5 linked regions of the Homo sapiens genome follow. The protein of the gene in region 1 purifies or fractionates together with the protein of each later gene. This does not show direct contact. Each region holds a gene or a part of one and is shown in the gene's direction. Other genes may lie near its edges.

Region 1 (3,520 bases):
AAAGAACAAAGCTAGAGGCATCATGCTACCTGACTTCAAACTATACTACAAGGCTACAGTAACCAAAACAGCATGGTACTGGTACCAAAACAGAGATAGAGATCAATGGAACAGAACAGAGCCCTCAGAAATAATGCCGCATATCTACAACTATCTAACCTTTGGAAACCTGAGAAAAACAAGCAATGGGGAAAGGATTCCCTATTTCATAAATGGTGCTGGGAAAACTGGCTAGCCATATGTAGAAAGCTGGAACTGGATCCCTTCCCTACACCTTATACAAAAATTAATTCAAGACTGATTAAAGACTTAAACATTAGACCTAAAACCATAAAAACCCTAGAAGAAAACCTAGGCATTACCATTCAGGACATAGGCATGGGCAAGGACTTCATGTCTAAAACACCAAAAGCAAGGGCAACAAAAGCCAAAATTGACAAATGCGATCTAATTAAACTAAAGAGCTTCTGCACAGCAAAAGAAACTACCATCAGAGTGAACAGGCAATCTACAAAATGGGAGAAAATTTTCGCAACCTACTCATCTGACAAAGGGCTAATATCCAGAATCTACAATGAACTCAAACAAATTTACAAGAAAAAAACAACCCCATCAAAAAGTGGGCAAAGGACATGAACAGACACTTCTCAGAAGACATTTATGCAGCCAAAATCACATGAAAAAATTCTCACCATCACTGGCCATCAGAGAAATGCAAATCAAAACCACAATGAGATACCATCTCACACCAGTTAGAATGGCATCATTGAAAAGTCAGGAAACAACAGGTGCTACAGAGGATGTGGATAAATAGGAACACTTTTACACTGTTGGTGGGACTGTAAACTAGTTCAACCATTGTGGAAGTCAGTGTGGTGATTCCTCAGGGATCTAGAACTAGAAATACCATTTGACCCAGCAATCCCATTACAGGGTATATACCCAAAGGACTATAAATCATGCTGCTATAAAGACACATGCACATGTATGTTTATTGTGGCACTATTCACAATAACAAAGACTTGGAACCAACCCAAATGTCCAACAATGATAGACTGGATTACGAAAATGTGGCACATATACACCATGGAATACTATGCAGCCATAAAAAATGATGAGTTCATGTCCTTTTTAGGGACATGGATGAAATTGGAAATCATCATTCTCAGTAAACTATTGCAAGGACAAAAAACCAAACACTGCATGTTCTCACTCATAGGTGGGAATTGAACACTGAGAACACATGGACACAGGAAGGGGAACATCACACTCTGGGGACTGTTGTGGGGTGGGGGGAGGGGGGAGGGATAGCATTAGGAGATATACCTAATGCTAAATGATGAGTTAATGGGTGCAGCACACCAACATGGCACATGTATACATATGTAACTAACCTGCACATTGTGCACATGTACCCTAAAACTTAAAGTATAATAATAATAAAAAAAATGGTGGAGTAGAGAAGTCCCAAAGTCCATCCCTCCACAAAAACTGGCAAAAATTTTGAAGATCGAGTTTTTTAAAACTTGAAACTAATCAAAAGCTTACAGCAACCAGGGAAATATTTAATAATAATTAAATAAAACCTTGAATCTCTGTAAAATAACTTTTTAACACTTTAACTTACTCAGGTTTTCCTCATTTCCCATCTTGGTGGTGGTTTTAAAGACAGCTGACATTCCAACTACAGGTACATAGTACAAGTGGGAGCAGCATGGACCTTATTCCCAAAGAACTGTGGCTTTGACCTGTCTGGTGCTTCCATGAAGTATTACATAAAAGGCTTGCCATTAGTTTGTTTAACTCAGAACTTTTTCACAGATGAGATGGCTACCCTGGAGGTATAGTTTGGAAACATTTAAAAGCAAATGTTTTTATTGCTGCCACCTGGGGAAAGGCATAATAGTTGGGGCAAACAATAGAGTAACCAAAAAGCTGAGAAAGAAAGGCTGGGGAAAGAGTTATTTTGGGGAATACCCTTTGAAAAGTACCCACATATTCCTGGTAATCTAGAAGGCCAACTGCATGCCCAGGACTGAGTGCATACTAAAAAAAAAAAAAAAACCTGAGAAAGACCCCAAGTTTTCTTCTCGGAGTGACTTTTAGGATCTGTGTAAGCAGGAACTGAGGACTAAGGAAGTTGTAAACTGTGTGTTGAAGGCATGCTCAACATATACGAAGCCCATTTACAAAGACTGGGAGGTTTTTGTTGTTGTTGTTGTTTGATTTGGGTTGATTCTAGGCATTTAAGGAAATCTCTGTTGAACTATTAGATGACTACTAAGTTCATGGGACAGAATTCAGTAGCTACATGTGACGAAGAATACAGACTTTACAAAATTTGTTTAGAAAAGTCACTAACTAAACAAAACAACTACAACAAGAAGTAACAAAAAACCCCAGAGAAGGTGGAAGATTCTGATTTCCAGAGATTTCACATTATACTTGTCAAAGTATCGGATATTCAACAAGTATAAATAAATAAGAACATATGGCCCATGGACAGGAGAAAAGGAAATTAATAGAAACTATTCCTGAGGAAGCTCAGACATTGGACTCACTAGACAAAGATTTTATATCAATTATTTTAAATATTCTCAAATAGCTAAAGGAAACAATTTGCAAATAAGGAAACCATGAGACTGATGTCTCACCAAATAGTGAATACCAGCAAAGATGTAGAAGTTATAAAAAGGAACCAAAGAGAAATTATGGTGTTGAAAAGCATAATAACTGAAATGAGAAATTCGCAAGAAGTGTTCAAATCAGATTTGAGCAGGCAAAAGAAAGAATTCATGAAACTGAAAATAGGTCAATTGAGATTATGCTGAAGATCAGGGAAAAAAAAGAATGAATAAAAATGAGCAGAGCCTCAGAAACCTGTGGGACTGTTATGCATAGTTGGAGTCCCAGAAGAGAGGAGAGAAGGGGACAGAAAGAATGCTTAAGGAAATAATGGTTTAAAACTTTTGAAATTTGACAAAAGGCATAAAGCTATACATCAAAGAAGCTCAACAAACTCTATGTAAGTTAACAGAGAGCCACACCAAGTTATAATTAAACTATTAAAAGCCAAAAATAATCTTAAAAGTAGCAAGAGTGAAGTGACTTATGTACAAGAGAGCCTCAATAAGTTAACAGCTAATTTTTCATCAGAAATCATGGAAGCCAGAGAGCAATGGGATGACATCTTCAAAGTAATTGAATAATCCACAAAGAATTTTGTATCTGGCCAAACTATCTTTCCAATATGAAGAAGAATTTAAGACATTCTCAGACAGACAAAAACTGAGCTTATCTCTAGTAGATCTTACCTACAAAAAATGACAAAGGGACTTCTTCAAGCTGAAATGAAGGGACATTAGACAATAACTTGAACCCAGACAAAGACATAAAAAAAGCACTCATCAAAGAACTACCTATTTTTGGTTTGTAACTCTTCTTTTTTTTCTAAAGTTTTAAAAGATAATAGCATAAACCAATAATTGTATATAAAAAAAGAAATCAATCTTAGTTTAAA
Region 2 (3,520 bases), on another chromosome or scaffold:
TTTTTGTGATCTTTAGATAGCATGATTTCTATTTTAGAATTTATGTGCAGAAAAAATGAGTGTCTAACTTTTTTCTTGTTTATTTGTAGTACACTTATAAAAATGACTGAAAATAGTGAAATTGAAATTTAGGATTATTGTCATTTTCTTTTTTTGTTTTTAGTATGTGTACAATCAACAGTAGTGTACCTTTTGGGATGTAGAAATTAATGTTAATTGGTCATTATTCTTCTGTGAGAATGCTCAGATTTTCTGACTTTTGGATATTATTCCTGTGTATCAGAAGTGAGAATTTATCTGGTGATCGGTAAAGTGGTCTATTTTTGTGTTTTCAGATATGATTCATCAACTTCCACTGTTGACAGAAAAACAGTACATTGCAACAATTCACTCTCGTCTTCAGGACTCACAGCTTTGGAAACTGCCTGGGCTCCAAGCCACTGTTAGACTTGCCTGGGCGCTGGCATTGAGGGGAATATCCCAGCTACCTGATGTGACAGGTGAATTGATTGTAGGTAATTTTGTTATGAGAAACAGCATGTTAGCACTTAATGACATTTTTGGAAGGAGTATTATCTTTGACATACATAAGCATAAGCATAGGAAGATATCCAGAGTTGTATTAAATGAAACCTTTAGTGTAGTAGTGAAATACAGACTTTTTTCTCCTTGTCTCTCAAAAATATCATATGAAATACTATTTCCCATTCTTGGAGCCACTGACAATGCTCTTTTACCTTCAGGGTATGAGTTTAAAATTTGGAATGACAGTGTCACATTAATTTTTTTTTTTTTTGAGATGGAGTTTTGCTCTTGTTGCCCAGGCTGGAGTGCAATGGCACAGTCTCGGCTCACTGCAACCTCTGCCCCCCGGGTTCAAGCGATTCTCCTGCCTCAGCCTCCCAAGTAGCTGGGATTACAGGCATGCGCCACCACACCTGGCTAATTGTGTATTTTTAGTAGAAATGGGGTTTCTCCATGTTGGTCAGGCTGGTCTTGAACTCCCGACCTCAGGTGATCCGACTGCCTTGGCCTCCCAAAGTGCTGGGATTGCAACACGTGAGCCACCCCGTCCGGCCTTAAATGTTTTTTAAAATTAAAATATACTATTCCTTTTATTTTTATATATTTTACTTCTTGATTTGTTCACAAACTAGTTTTTCACATTGTGTCAAATTAAAAACAGTTATTTTTCCATACAGTGTATTAAAAAGGAGATATTTGGATCAGTCAAGAACAGATGTGGAATCCCGACTTTTCTTTTTTGTGGCCCAGGCTGGAGTGCAGTGGCTCGATCCCGGCTCACTGCAACCTCCACCTACTGGGTTCAAGTGATTCTCCTGCCTCAGCTTCTTAAGTAATTGGACTACAGGCACACGCCACCACACCCGGCTAATCTTTTGTATTTTTAGTAGAAACAGGGTTTCACCATGTTGGCTGGGCTGGTCTCGAACTCCTGAGCTCAGGTGATCCACTTGCTTTGGCCTCCCAGAGTGTTGGGTTTACAGGTGTGAGCCACCGCGCCTGACCAGAATACTGACTTTTAACAACCTGTTAACTCACTGTAGCATATATTATTCTGCTATTTACATTTACATTATTTAATTGTCATATTAGTAGGGGTTTATTCTAACAGAATGAGAACCATACATGGAACACGAAGCCCAAAGAATTGTCTTTTTATGGTAAATCTAGAAAGGCTTTATTCAAGTTTACAATTTATGTCAGTTTTCTAATCCTAAAGTATCAACAGATTCTAGTATCTTATCAATCGTGTAATTCCAGAACATTTTGTTTTCACTAGTGTCATGCTGTTCCCAAGGTGTTTGCAGAAAGCTTTTTTTGTGTTAGGAGTCTTTCTTTGGCCAGTTAATTTCTATCTGTCTGTCATCTATATATCTAAATGCTGATAGCGAATTAGACTTTTACATTCCCGTACAAATTCTGTTTCTCACCTGTACGTACCCTCATCATTTATAAGTCTTATTTCACTACTTTTCTGACATAAAGTTACCCTTTAACCTTTGAAGTGGCTATGTGATAGTTAATATCTTCTTTTTTTATTTTGGAGATGGAGTCTCGTTCTGTTGCCCAGACTGGAATGCAGTGGCATGATCTCAGGTCACTGCAACCTCTGCCTCCTGGGTTCAAGCAATTCTGCCTCAGCCTCCGGAGTACCTGGGACTATAGTCGCACGCCGCCACACCCAGCTAAGTTTTTGTATTTTAGTAGAGACAGGGTTTCACCGGGTTGCCTAGGCTGGTCTCGAACTCCGGAGCTCAGGCAATCTGCCTGCCTTGGCCTCCCAAAGTGCTGGGATTACAGGCGCGAGCCACCATGCCCAGGTGTGATAGTTAATATATTAACTATATAATATAGTTATACATAGATAGTTATTATAATATTATGTAATATGGTCACAATCTTATGCTATAATTGCCCATACCACTGCACTAGTTTTGAAAGGTTTAATAGAATATGCTATAGTTTGCTGTAGAATAATAGTAAAAATAGGTTAGGAATCACAGCCCTAGTTTCAAGTCCCAGATCTTTGGCTACTTAATCTCTTTGATTTTATATGCTCATATCCTTTTATAAGCTTTAATAGTTAGGGGTATTATAATTAGAATTTTTAAACTATAAAAATTTTTCTGTTAATTTGCATTTTAAAAATTGTTAGAAAAAATGACTAGCTTGTGTTATTTTGCAGAAATGGTCACTTCTTGAAATAATCCAGACAAGTTTTAACGAAGATCTCCAATTTGAAAAATTGGTTTCTGTTCTCTTCATAGACTTCTGAAACTTTTATCAAATGTTTTTATTATATTATTCTATAAAAGGCATGAAGCCAGGTGCAGTGCCTCATGCCTATAATCCCAGCATTTTGGGAGGCCAAGGTGGGAGGATTGCTTGAGCCCAGGAGTTCATGACAAACCTGGGCAATGTAGTGATACCTCATCTCTTCAAAAAATTAAAAATTAGCCCAGTGTGGTGACATGCCCTTGGCTGTAGTCCCAGCTACGCAGGAGGCTGAGGCAGGAGGATCACTTGAGCCCAGGAGAGAGGCTGTAGTGAGCTGAAATTGCTCCACTGCACTCCAGCCTGGGTGACAGAGTGAGATCACATCTCAAAAAAAATTAAAAAAACAAGCATCGGCCGGGTGTGGTGACTCACGCCTGTAATCCCAGCACTTTGGGAGGATGAGGCAGGTGGATCGCTTGAGGTCAGGAGTTCAAGACCAGACTGGCGAACGTGGTAAAAGCCCATCTCCACTAAAAACACAAAAAATTAGCCAAGCATGGTGGCGCGTGCCTGTAATCCCAGCTGCTTGGGAGACTGAGGCAGGAGAATTGCTTGAACCTAGTGGGCAGAGGTTGCAGTGAGCTGAGATCATGCCACTGCACTTTAGCCTGGGTGACAGAGTGAAACTCTGTTTCCAAAAAAAAAAAATCAACAAAAAAACCAAGCATTTTTGTAATTTCACTAAGCTTTACAGAATTTTAGCATACTGTTTTTAGGC
Region 3 (3,520 bases), on another chromosome or scaffold:
TCACAAAACTATTTTGGGAAAAAACTTCGTAAGATAATATATATAGTAACCTGGAAGTTGCTTGGCACAATGAAAGCATTTCAGTACCTGGTAGGAATTACTATTATTAGTTGATCTTATTTTAGGGACTTAACACACCTAGATTAGGTAATTTTCTTTCTCATTAAGGCTTTTTTCCAACTATGATTTTTTTTTTTAAATGTTTTTCATTCTTATTTATTTCCCAATTTAGTTACATCGGGCATATAAATGGCTTTTGTTTGAATTGATTGTCATAGGAATAATGGATTTTGGAAGAGTTTTTGGAGGGTAATGTGTTTAGACTATATGAAAAAAAAATTTTTAAATTGAGTTTTTGTAGGCCTTTCAAACTAATAAGCATAAGGGATTCGAAGGCAGACAGAATGTTTTGCAGAGTGAATAACAAAGCAAATTGTTTTTGTTTTCTATCGTGATGACTTTGTCATTTATGGGTTAATGCATATGCAAAGTGATTAATATTTGGAGAATGAAGCAGTAGCTTTAAAATGCTCTTTAAAAAAAATAACCGTTTGCCTTAAAATTGTTAAATTAAAATTGTTTTCCTACTCAAATAATACATGTTAGAAAATTTAGGAAAACATAGATTTGGAAAGAGAAAATGAAAATTATACTAATACTGCCTCCCCCAGAAAACCTGTGTGCATCTTAGTGTCTGTCATCCTTTAGGTTTTCTTCCAAGAGTACACATACATGTGTATTTACATGGAAATTCAACTTTTAAGAAAATGGACCTGTACTGTATTTATATATATATATATATATATTTTTTTTTTTTTTTTTTCCCCTCAAAATACTATGGCTTAGTTTTTTATATACATGACTTTTTTTCTAATTTCAAAATTAGTATATGAACACAAATTTATTATTAATAAAGCTCAAATACAGAAATAAAATAGAAAGTAAAAGCCCTTCTTCATACTTCTGCCAACCATTTGTCTCAGAAAACAAACCAAAAAAGTAACTTATTCTTTTTCCCAGAGATAAGACTTGTTAATGGTGTGTATTTTTCTAGATCTTTTTCAGTACATTTGCAGATAGGTACACATACACGGTTTTGTCATATAAATGTGATCAAACTTGATGTATTCTGGGCTGGGCACCATGACTCACGTCTGTAATCCCAGCACTTTGAGAGGCTGAGGTGGGTGGATCACTTGAGGTCAGGAGTTCAAGACCAGCTTGGGCAACATGGCGAAACTTAGTCTCTACTAAAAATACAAAAATTAGCTGGGCGTGGTGGTGCATGCCTGTAATCCCAGCTACTTGGGAGGCTGAGACATGAGAATCACTTGAACCTAGGAGGTGGAGATTACAGGGAGCCGAGATCATGCCACTGTACTCCAGCCTAGGTAACTGTGACTCTGTCTCAAAAAAAAGACTTGATGTATTCTGAGACTTGTTATTTAGTGATTTATTTTGGAGCTCTTTCTCTTTTAGTACCTGTAGGTCTACCTAATGTTTTTAATTATTATAGACAATTCCATAGTTTGAATATATCATATATGTAGGACTTTTCACAACATTTACCTGTCTGTAGACAGATGATGTTGCTATTTTACAGATGAGGAAGTAAAGACATGAAGATAGTTGGTGGTTTGCTTGATACCTCACTACAAAGTGACAGAGTAAGGTGGAGAACCACCCCCCAAAAAAAGTAAATAAAAAAATAATAATAACTAAAAAGTAGAGAACCCAGTTGTATTAGTCGATTCTCACACAGTTATAAAGAACTGCCTGAGACTGGGTAATTTAAAAAGGAAAGAGGTTTAATTGACTCACAGTTCCGCAGGGTTGGGGAGGCCTCAGGAAACTTACAATCATAGCAGAAGGGGAGGCAAACAGGTCCTTCTTTAATACGGCGGCAAGCAAAGTGCTGAGTAAAGGGAGAAAAGCCCCTTATAAAACCAGATCTTGTGAGAACTCACTATCTCATGAGAACAGCATGAGGGTAACCTCCTCTGTGATTAAATTACCTCCCGCCAGGTCCCTCCCGTAACGTGGGGATTATGGGAACTACAGTTCAAGATGAGATTTGGGTGGGGACACAGCCAAACTATATCCAGTTGTACAGACTCCGTCAGGATATGAGGCTGTATGCTAAGCACTGTATGAATCCATAGGTATAGAATGTAGGAAAGACAGGCTCTTTGTGTTTTAAAAACTTGAGACTAAGAAAACAAGTAGTTAAGGTATACGGAAAGGTACAGGTCAGAGAAAATGTTTGCAGAGTAGATATTTGTATTTGACATTTGTATTTGTGCCTGCCTGATGAGGAAAGATGTTTTAAAATTGCTATCAATTAGGCTGAGCTTTGAAGGTGAGCCAGGGGCAGTTGGGAGATTTCTCAGTGTGTCAGATAGTGTATTTTCTCTTATTAGTCAAAAGATGTTAACCTTCTTGCAGGAACTTATAATTGAAGAATATACTTTGAGCATAATTTCTTCCTCTTTACAGGATAATGGAGAATTGTGGTGATATTTCTCTGATTCTGAACACTTTCTCATCATTATTTTTCCAGAAGGGGCCTAGCACAATGATTTTATAGGCACTTGGAAAAGAGTGAGGGTTGGATGAGTGTAACCTAATACAGGTGGGGAGCGCTTCAACAGTGATTTGAATATTTCCCTACGCAAGATAGTGTATCAAGTGTTATGATTCCTGAGTGCCACAGTCCAAGTGGCATAAATCATGGTATGATAAGGATAGCCAACAATAAAAATTGTACTAATTCAGTTTAGGAGTCAGGCATTTAAGAGGAGAGTGGGCTATAATAGCACCCATACTGTGGAATTGCCTCCCTGTAGGAGTTTAATTTGAAAGTCAACGTGTGAGTTCAATGCATGTACGATGTTACATTTACATTTACTACATTTATCTACATTTACTACAGTGACTTAAAGTAGCTGCTTTCCTGGCAGATTGTAGCTTTGGGACTAGTACCTGATAATCTCCTTTTCTTTAGGTATGGTATAAGAAACAGTTTACTTATTGCCCCGATGCCTACAGCTTCCACTGCTCAGATCCTGGGGAATAATGAGTCCATTGAACCTTACACCAGCAACATCTATACTCGCAGAGTCTTGTCAGGAGAATTTCAGGTGAGCAGTTCACAACCAGCCTTACAGGGAGATCTTTCAAAAGCCTGATGTTGGGAGTAAATGCTCACTCATGTTTAATTTGCCCATTTTCTTAGTTTGGGTGCAAACTTTGATAAAGACAGTCATCTTCATCTCTAATATTATTATTTGTTATTAATATTTCAGCACAATAGGCATTTAATAAATAATCTGTTGAAAGAATGAGTGAATGAGGGTCGAGTATGAAAGTAAGTTGTTGATAGTTAAACATGATGTTTAACCATTATGTAATCATAGTGATATATTCTATAACTTCTCCCAGATGCTTAAGTTAGGATACTCAAAATGTATAAAGAAGTATCATTTAAGGCAGTGGTTCTCAGACTTGGTTACCAATTAGA
Region 4 (3,520 bases), on another chromosome or scaffold:
TAACTGTCTCCAAGTACCTATTTGCTTTGCATGCTGATCTTCTTTTTTTTTTTTTTTGAGATGGAGTCTCACTCTGTTGCCCGGGTTCCAGTGATTCTCCTACCTCAGCCTCCCGAGTAGCTGGGATTACAGGTGCTAGCCACCACCCCGGCTAATTTTCATATTTTTAGTAGAGATGGGGTTTGATGTCGAACTCCTGACCTCAGGTGATCCACTCGCCTCAGCCTCCCAAAGTGCTGGGATTACAGGCGTGAGCTACTGCATCCATCCTGATCTTCTCCTTTGTCTCTCTCGATCTACTCTTTTTTCTGGGGGCAGGGGGCACTAAGTCTTGCTCTGTTGCCAGGCTGGAGTGCAACAGTGCAATGTCGGCTCACTGCAACCTCTGCCTCCTGGCTTCAAGCAATTCTCCTGCCTCAGCCTCCCAAGTAGCTGGGACTACAGGCATGTGCCACCATGCCCAGCTAATTTTTGTATTTTTAGTAGAGACCTGGTTTCACCCTTGTTGGCCAGGCAGATCTACTCTTGACTCTGCCACAGCAAGGTGGCCTTCCTGAATGGGCTCCCTTGCCCTCCGGCTTCTGCCAGGTCAGATGAATGTGAGGCCCTGCCATAAGGCCAGAAGTTGGAGTAGTTATTCTGCCAGCTTTCTTCCTTGCCTGTGCGCACTTTACATTGGCTGTGCCCCTCTGTCAGGGACTGTGCCTCCTGTCCAACTGCTTTCTCTGTGTTTCCAGTAGCTGCCCCCTCCTTGTGCCTCTTCAGGCCTGAGGTTGATAATGCCTCATCCTAGGGTGCTGCCCCATCCCTTTTTGGACCCCTTAATCTTGCCCACACCTTTGCAAACAGTACCTTCACTGAACTCCTCAGCTACCTCCTAGGATCCTGTTGCTACACCTTGCTTGTAGAATCAGATTTATTTTCAGAGAAAAAGTAAAGTCTGCTACAAACTTCAAAGACAGAAATGGTTAAGATGCTGGGCAGCCAGTGGCAGCTGGACATTGTGGAAATAGTGACGCAGTCCTCGTGCTTTTGTGAAGCTTCACAGCCTGATGAGGCAGCAAGGCAGACTTCGCTGTCTCCCTTTAAAGGTGTGACATTAGAACTTAGACCTGTTGTCTTAACTGAGACTGCAGAACTATCTGGTTTTAGAAACAGGGCCAGCTCTTCCCTGAGCTCTGTGAAATTTGGAATTCCTTATGCATTTGAGGAACTTCAAACTCTATTTGGTGTCTCAAATTTTGCTTCCTTCCTCCTATAGCCTAGCTGTATTCTAACATGTAGCACACTGTGCCGACAAGTCTCTTTTTCTTAATGTTTGATGTACTGTAACCTAAGTTTGATGTACTATAACCTAAATTCAGTCTTCCTGTTGATTCCATAAATGTGTTTAGTGTGAATTCTTTGCTTTTATGCATTTGGGTTAGTTCCTGGGGAATGGAAGGAAAAGCACTTTGTTATGTTTTGTTTTTAATCTAGACAGTATGCCAGAAATCTGAAAGAAAAACAAATCACCTCAAGTTTCATGATCTAACAAATCAAGTTGTTGTCATTTTTGTGTCCTTTTTGGTCTTTATTCATATATAATTTTATATGATAAGACAATTTTTTAAAATTAATTACAGACTACTTGTAAGAACTGAGCAAGAGCCTGGTTCATTATTCTGCATTTGGATCAAAGGGCAAAGTATAAGTGTCAATTTAGTGTATGTACATGTTTCAGTTAGCTGAATTATTGGAGAAGGGTCTGGAAATTATCAGTTGGATACATATAGAATAATATTTTAGGAATATGATACAGCAAAACTAAAAATGTGATTGGCTCCTCAAAAGAATGTTCCATATGAAAAATGGTAATGTTTAGGACTGTTCCTGTCACTATTTATCTTCATTTCTCATGATGTTCGTTGGTCTTTAGCTTCTCTGGGGTGTAGTTATAAAGGTTTTCTCCCGTGTCATAATGATCATGAAAAGAGAATACAATAGCTATATGCATATAGTAGTTTTTCTTTCTTTTTACCTGTCCTTCCACTTGGGGGTGACAAGTTACCTGTCTAAGGAGTATTTGTGTTTTGGGACGAGCTGGTTAACCAAAATCAATCTCTGATTGGTGGGCCATATAGAACGATATTTTGACTTGGCAGCCCTGATAGAAAGTAAAACAATACAGAGCTGCCTGAGGGTGCGCTCTCCACTTTGACTCTGTCTCCAGTTTGGGAAGGCCTTGTACCTCCCAGGGCTCTGGAAAAGCAGAGCTCACTGCTTAAGGAACAGACTATGTTGACACGGCATATGAGCAATATTTGAAATCACTGAATATATACATGATAAGAGAATTTAACAAGTGTTTTGGCATTTTATGTGCTTTTATGTTATTTTCTGTCTTTTATATTATATATGCTTTCCTTTTTTTTTTTTTTTGAGACTGAGTCTTGCTCTGTCGCCAGGCTGGAGTGCAGTGACACAATCTCTGCTCACCGCAGCCTCGGCCTCCTTGGTTCAAGCAATTCTCCTGCCTCAGCCTCCCAAGTAGCCGGGACTCCAGGTGCACGCCACGACGCCCAGCTAATTTTTGTATTTTTAGTGGAGACAGGGTTTCACCATGTTTTCCAGGATGGTCTTGATCTCTTGACCTTGTGATCCACCCACCTCCAAAGTGCTGGGATTGCAGGCATGAGCCACCGCACCCGGCCATTATATAGGCTTTCATTGTGTTTTTCATGTTAACAATGTAAAATATTCTTACACTTAAGCTTATAAATTAAATGTGCTAAAGATTTCTTGCCTGGGCTGTTAGGATGCCTTTGGCTAACATCAGAAATGCAAAAGGAAGAACAAGGTTTGCAAAAGGGAGGGATTTTGTTTGGGTCATGTTTTATCTGTGCCTATATAACTTGTTCCTTCAGCCAGTTTGTGAGGTCCTTGAGGGCAGCTAATCTGATTTTTCTTTCCTCTTATCTCTGAGTGTCCATTGCTATGCAAACTCTAAATAATGGGGGGAAAGCTTAAGTGCAGACTTGAACTTGAAACAGGAGTTTCAGTGCCTGATGGTATTTTTGCACTGTTATCTCCATGTATTAATTAATGACAAAGGAAGAGTTAGAAGTTATGTATTTAGTTCATTCTCTTATGTTGCTTACTTCTGTTCTACAAATGTTTCTGTTATGTCTGAAGAAGGGGAATTCCTCAAAGAAAGAAATTAGCAAGTTCACTTTTTGAGGTCATTATTTTAGTCTATTAGTTCATTAGTTTGGGGTATTACATTGTAAAGTGATGTCATCTGTAACCTAGTGCTATTTAAAGATGCACTGAGCAGAGTAGCTATAATAAAAAATATCATCGCTTAAAAATCTCAGTAACAATCCAGAATTTGCCTGTTTATAAGACTTATTTGGGCACTCTGACTTTTAAAAGTTAGGAGATGTGACTTTTCTTGATTTTTGAATTTATTTTTACCATCAACTGCCAATAAATTTTCCTCCATCTATAGGTCTGAGGATATGGCTTAATGAGTAAAACT
Region 5 (3,520 bases), on another chromosome or scaffold:
TGGGAAGAGAGCTGGGAGGGGACAGGTGTGGTGGGGGTGGCTGATGACAACACATCCTTTCCCTCTCTTTGCAGACACCGAAAGAAATGGACCAGACACTAATCATCAGGTTAGGAGGGAGTGGATAAGCGGGAGGGGGTGGGAAGGAATGGGGAGAGGGGTTCAGAGGGGGCTCTGTGCCGCCTATGGTAGGAGGGCAGGGAGCGGGGGTGGTCAGAAGCTGCTTCACTGCACTATTCCCATCCCCTTGCTCCTACTTTCTCTTTGCAGAACCCCCAAAATAAGACCTCCCCATTCTCCGTGTCCCCAACTGGCCCCAGTACAAAGGTAAGCACCTGTCAGAACAGCCAGGGAAGTGGGCAGCGCTTGGAAGAGGGTCCTCAGGAGGCCTGCCTCAGTCCAAGGGCTGAGAGAGCACTGAGCCTTGGTACCTTGGTAACGAGGTTCCTCCCGCCCCTTCTCACTCTTGGGCTCCCACCCCAGGCCTGTGACTCACGCAGGCTCCTTCCCCTTCCCTAGGGGGTGGGGGTGGCTAGGGAAATCCCCCCCAGAGCCCCAGGGCGATGAACAACAGGAAGCCAAAGGCCCGCCCCCATCCCAACTTCCCTGACCCAACAGAGGCCTGCACCACCGCCTGTCCCCCAATATACACATTTAGCGGCCAGCTGAGGTGGGGGTGGGGGGGCTGGTACCAGTTGAGGATAGCTGTAGGAATGCAGGAGAGAATGACAGGGAGGCCGGAAGCAGCCAGGCAGTGCAAATTCCACATCCAGATGGGGCCCTGTGCCTGGCATTCTGGGCTTCTTGGGGTTGCCTGGGCTCCAGTCTCCACCCTCCAGCCTGGTCCAGGGGTAGCAGGCAGGTCCAGAGGCTTGAAGGTAGCACTGGAGGTGGGGGCAGAGAAGGTGTGAGCAGGACTCCAGACCCTGACCAGTGGTGGCTGAGGGATGGGGTGGGAGGCTGGGAACTGCTCCCCACCCTGCTACAGCTTTGCTCTGTGACCATGGGAAAGTCACTTCCCCTCTCTGGGCCTCTCAGTTTCCTCTTCAGTATCATTGGTCAGGGGGGAGGGGGCAGTCGGATGGGATGGCCTCTGTGGTTGCCTCCATGTCTGGTGTACCCCCATGCTACCATGAGAGGAGAGGATAAAAGTGCTTTGTGAGCAGATGTCCTGCTTCTGTGCTGAGCGCTTTGAACGGGGTCTAGGGGAGACAGGCTCTCGATCTTGACCTCCTTGACCCTCTGATGGCAGGTTTGGCTATTGCCTTAGCCCTCAGAGCACAGCGTGTATCCATTGCCCCCACCCTGTCCTCAGTTGAATCAGATCTTTGCAGTCTGTTCTCAAACTGGCAGCAGGCTTCCTTCTTTTGGGGATGCCAGTGGGACCAAGGGAATGAAGGTTTCTCCCTCCCCTTCCTGGCCTCGGGCTCTGTCCACAACTCGCCCTGTACGCCCTGTTTCTCTGGGCTTTGCCTCTCAACTTCTCTCCATCTCTTCTGTGTCAGTCTTTCCCTAACTGAAGTGATTCATGTGCTTCTGTCACAGTCTCAGGCATAAGACCACTGTGCGCAACTATTTACATAATAATTTTGTTAATTGGCTCAATTTTTTAAAAAAGCACCTTATTATGGAAAATGTGAAGTGGATACAGAAATAGAGAGAAGGTTATAATGAAAATAAAGCCCCTAGATACCCATCAATCAGCTTCAACAATTACCAACTCATGAACTGGCTTGCTTTTCGACAGCTTTTTAAATAAATGTTTTTTAAATGGAAATTTCACAAATGGAAAACCAGAATCACTTGCCATGGAAATAAATATGATGATTATTAAAATTTACCCAGAGTCTCTTGTGTGCCGAAGGGTCTAAACCTCAGAGGCCTGTTAAAAAAGAGGCTTATTAAAAAGAGGCTTATTAAAAAAGGAGATTAGGGCTGGGCGCGGTGGCTCATGCCTGTATTCCCAACAGTTTGGGAGACAAAGCGGGCAGATCACCTGAGGTCAGGAGCTTGAGACCAGCCTGGCCAACACGGTGAAACTTCGACTCTACTAAAAATACAAAAATTAGCCGGGCATGGTGGTGAGTGCCTGTAATCCCAGCTACTTGGGAGGCTGAGGCATTGTGGAGAATTGCTTGTGCCCAGGAGGTAGAGGTTGCAGTGAGCCGAGATTGCACCACTGCACTCCAGCCTGGGCAACAGAGAAAGACTCCAGCTCAAAAAAAAAAAAAAAAGGAGATTAGGCCAGATGCAGTGGCTCAAGCCTGTAGTTCTAACACTTTGGGAGGCCAAGGTGGGTAGATCGCTTGAGCCCGGGAGTTCAAGACCAGCCTGGGCAACATAGTGAGACCCTGTCTCTACAGAAAATACAAAAATTAGCTGGGTGTGCATGCCTGTAGTCTCAGCTACTTGAGACAGAGGCAGGAGGATCGCTTGAGTCTGGGAAGTTGAGGCTGCAGTGAGTCCTGATGGTGCCACTGCACTCCAGCTTGGGTGACAGAGCAAGACCCTGTCTCAAAAAAAAAATTAAAATAAAAGTGGAGATTAGCTAGTATTGGAGAGATGGTAAAGACATTCAAGCACCAATCAGAGACTTTAAGATAACCAGAAACAATGAAAAAAGCACTGAAAAGGGAATAGTGTGCTCACCATGGCATTCAACATTATTTTTTTAAAACTTTTTTTTTTTGAGACGGAGTCTCGCACTGTCACCCGGGCTGGAGTGCAATGGCATGATCTCGGCTCATTGCAACCTCCACCTCCTGGGTTCAAGCGATTTTTGAGGCGGAGTCTCGCTCTGTCGCCCAGGCTGGAGTGCGATGGCACCATCTTGGCTCACTGCACCTCCACCTCCCGGCTTCAGGTGATTCTCTTGCCTTAGCCTCCCAATTAGCTGGGATTACAGGTGTGTGCCACCATGCCTGGCTAATTTTTGTATTTTTAGTAGAGATGGGGTTTCACCATGTTGGCCAGGCTGGTCTCGAACTCCAGACCTCAAGTGATCCTCCCACCTTGGCTCCCAAAGTGCTGGGATTAAGGGGCGAGCCACCGCGCTCAGCCTATTTTTAAAAAAACTTTGTATTAAAATATGATACACATTAAAAACACACATAGATCTTCAATGTATGACTCTGTGAACTTTCAGAAACTTAGCACACCCATGTCACTAGCACCAGATCAAGAAGCAGAGCACGACCAGCCTTCCAGAGGCCCTTAATGCCCCTGCCAGGGATAGCTGCTACCCTGACTTCTCATACTCAGTGTCATTTCATGCTGCATCTCTGCAGCACTTTTTTTTTTTTAACCTCTCTCTCTCTCTTTTTTTTTTAAGAGACGGTGTCTTGCTCTGTTGCCCAGGCTAGTCTCAAACTCCTGGCCTCAAGCAATCCTCCTGCCTCAGCCTCCCAAAATGCTGCGATTACAGGCATGAACCACCACACTTGGCCTCTGTAGCTCTTAAACTTTCTAATACTTATATTCCATAATTTGGGACATGCCATTCACTGTCTATTATTTGGCC

The links.
Region 2: the proteins of TRIM69 (region 1) and NUP205 purify together in Homo sapiens (affinity purification with mass spectrometry, with the first as the bait; one large-scale study listed by BioGRID). This does not show direct contact.
Region 3: the proteins of TRIM69 (region 1) and RRM1 purify together in Homo sapiens (affinity purification with mass spectrometry; 2 studies listed by BioGRID and IntAct, with this or other methods). This does not show direct contact.
Region 4: the proteins of TRIM69 (region 1) and NUP133 purify together in Homo sapiens (affinity purification with mass spectrometry, with the first as the bait; one large-scale study listed by BioGRID). This does not show direct contact.
Region 5: the proteins of TRIM69 (region 1) and POU2F2 purify together in Homo sapiens (affinity purification with mass spectrometry, with the first as the bait; one large-scale study listed by BioGRID). This does not show direct contact.

Annotation. Positions count from the first base shown.
Region 1 is NC_000015.10:44,743,022-44,746,541, forward strand, and holds part of TRIM69 (E3 ubiquitin-protein ligase TRIM69), read left to right. Parts: intron 1-3,520.
Region 2 is NC_000007.14:135,578,416-135,581,935, forward strand, and holds part of NUP205 (nuclear pore complex protein Nup205), read left to right. Parts: intron 1-335; coding exon 336-500; exon of another isoform or gene 501-511; intron 512-3,520. UniProt on the Homo sapiens protein: Plays a role in the nuclear pore complex (NPC) assembly and/or maintenance. May anchor NUP62 and other nucleoporins, but not NUP153 and TPR, to the NPC.
Region 3 is NC_000011.10:4,129,282-4,132,801, forward strand, and holds part of RRM1 (ribonucleoside-diphosphate reductase large subunit), read left to right. Parts: intron 1-3,004; coding exon 3,005-3,140; intron 3,141-3,520. UniProt on the Homo sapiens protein: Provides the precursors necessary for DNA synthesis. Catalyzes the biosynthesis of deoxyribonucleotides from the corresponding ribonucleotides.
Region 4 is NC_000001.11:229,466,825-229,470,344, reverse strand, and holds part of NUP133 (nuclear pore complex protein Nup133), read left to right. Parts: intron 1-3,520. UniProt on the Homo sapiens protein: Involved in poly(A)+ RNA transport. Involved in nephrogenesis.
Region 5 is NC_000019.10:42,118,933-42,122,452, reverse strand, and holds part of POU2F2 (POU domain, class 2, transcription factor 2), read left to right. Parts: intron 1-74; coding exon 75-109; intron 110-270; coding exon 271-327; intron 328-3,520. UniProt on the Homo sapiens protein: Transcription factor that specifically binds to the octamer motif (5'-ATTTGCAT-3'). Regulates IL6 expression in B cells with POU2AF1. Regulates transcription in a number of tissues in addition to activating immunoglobulin gene expression.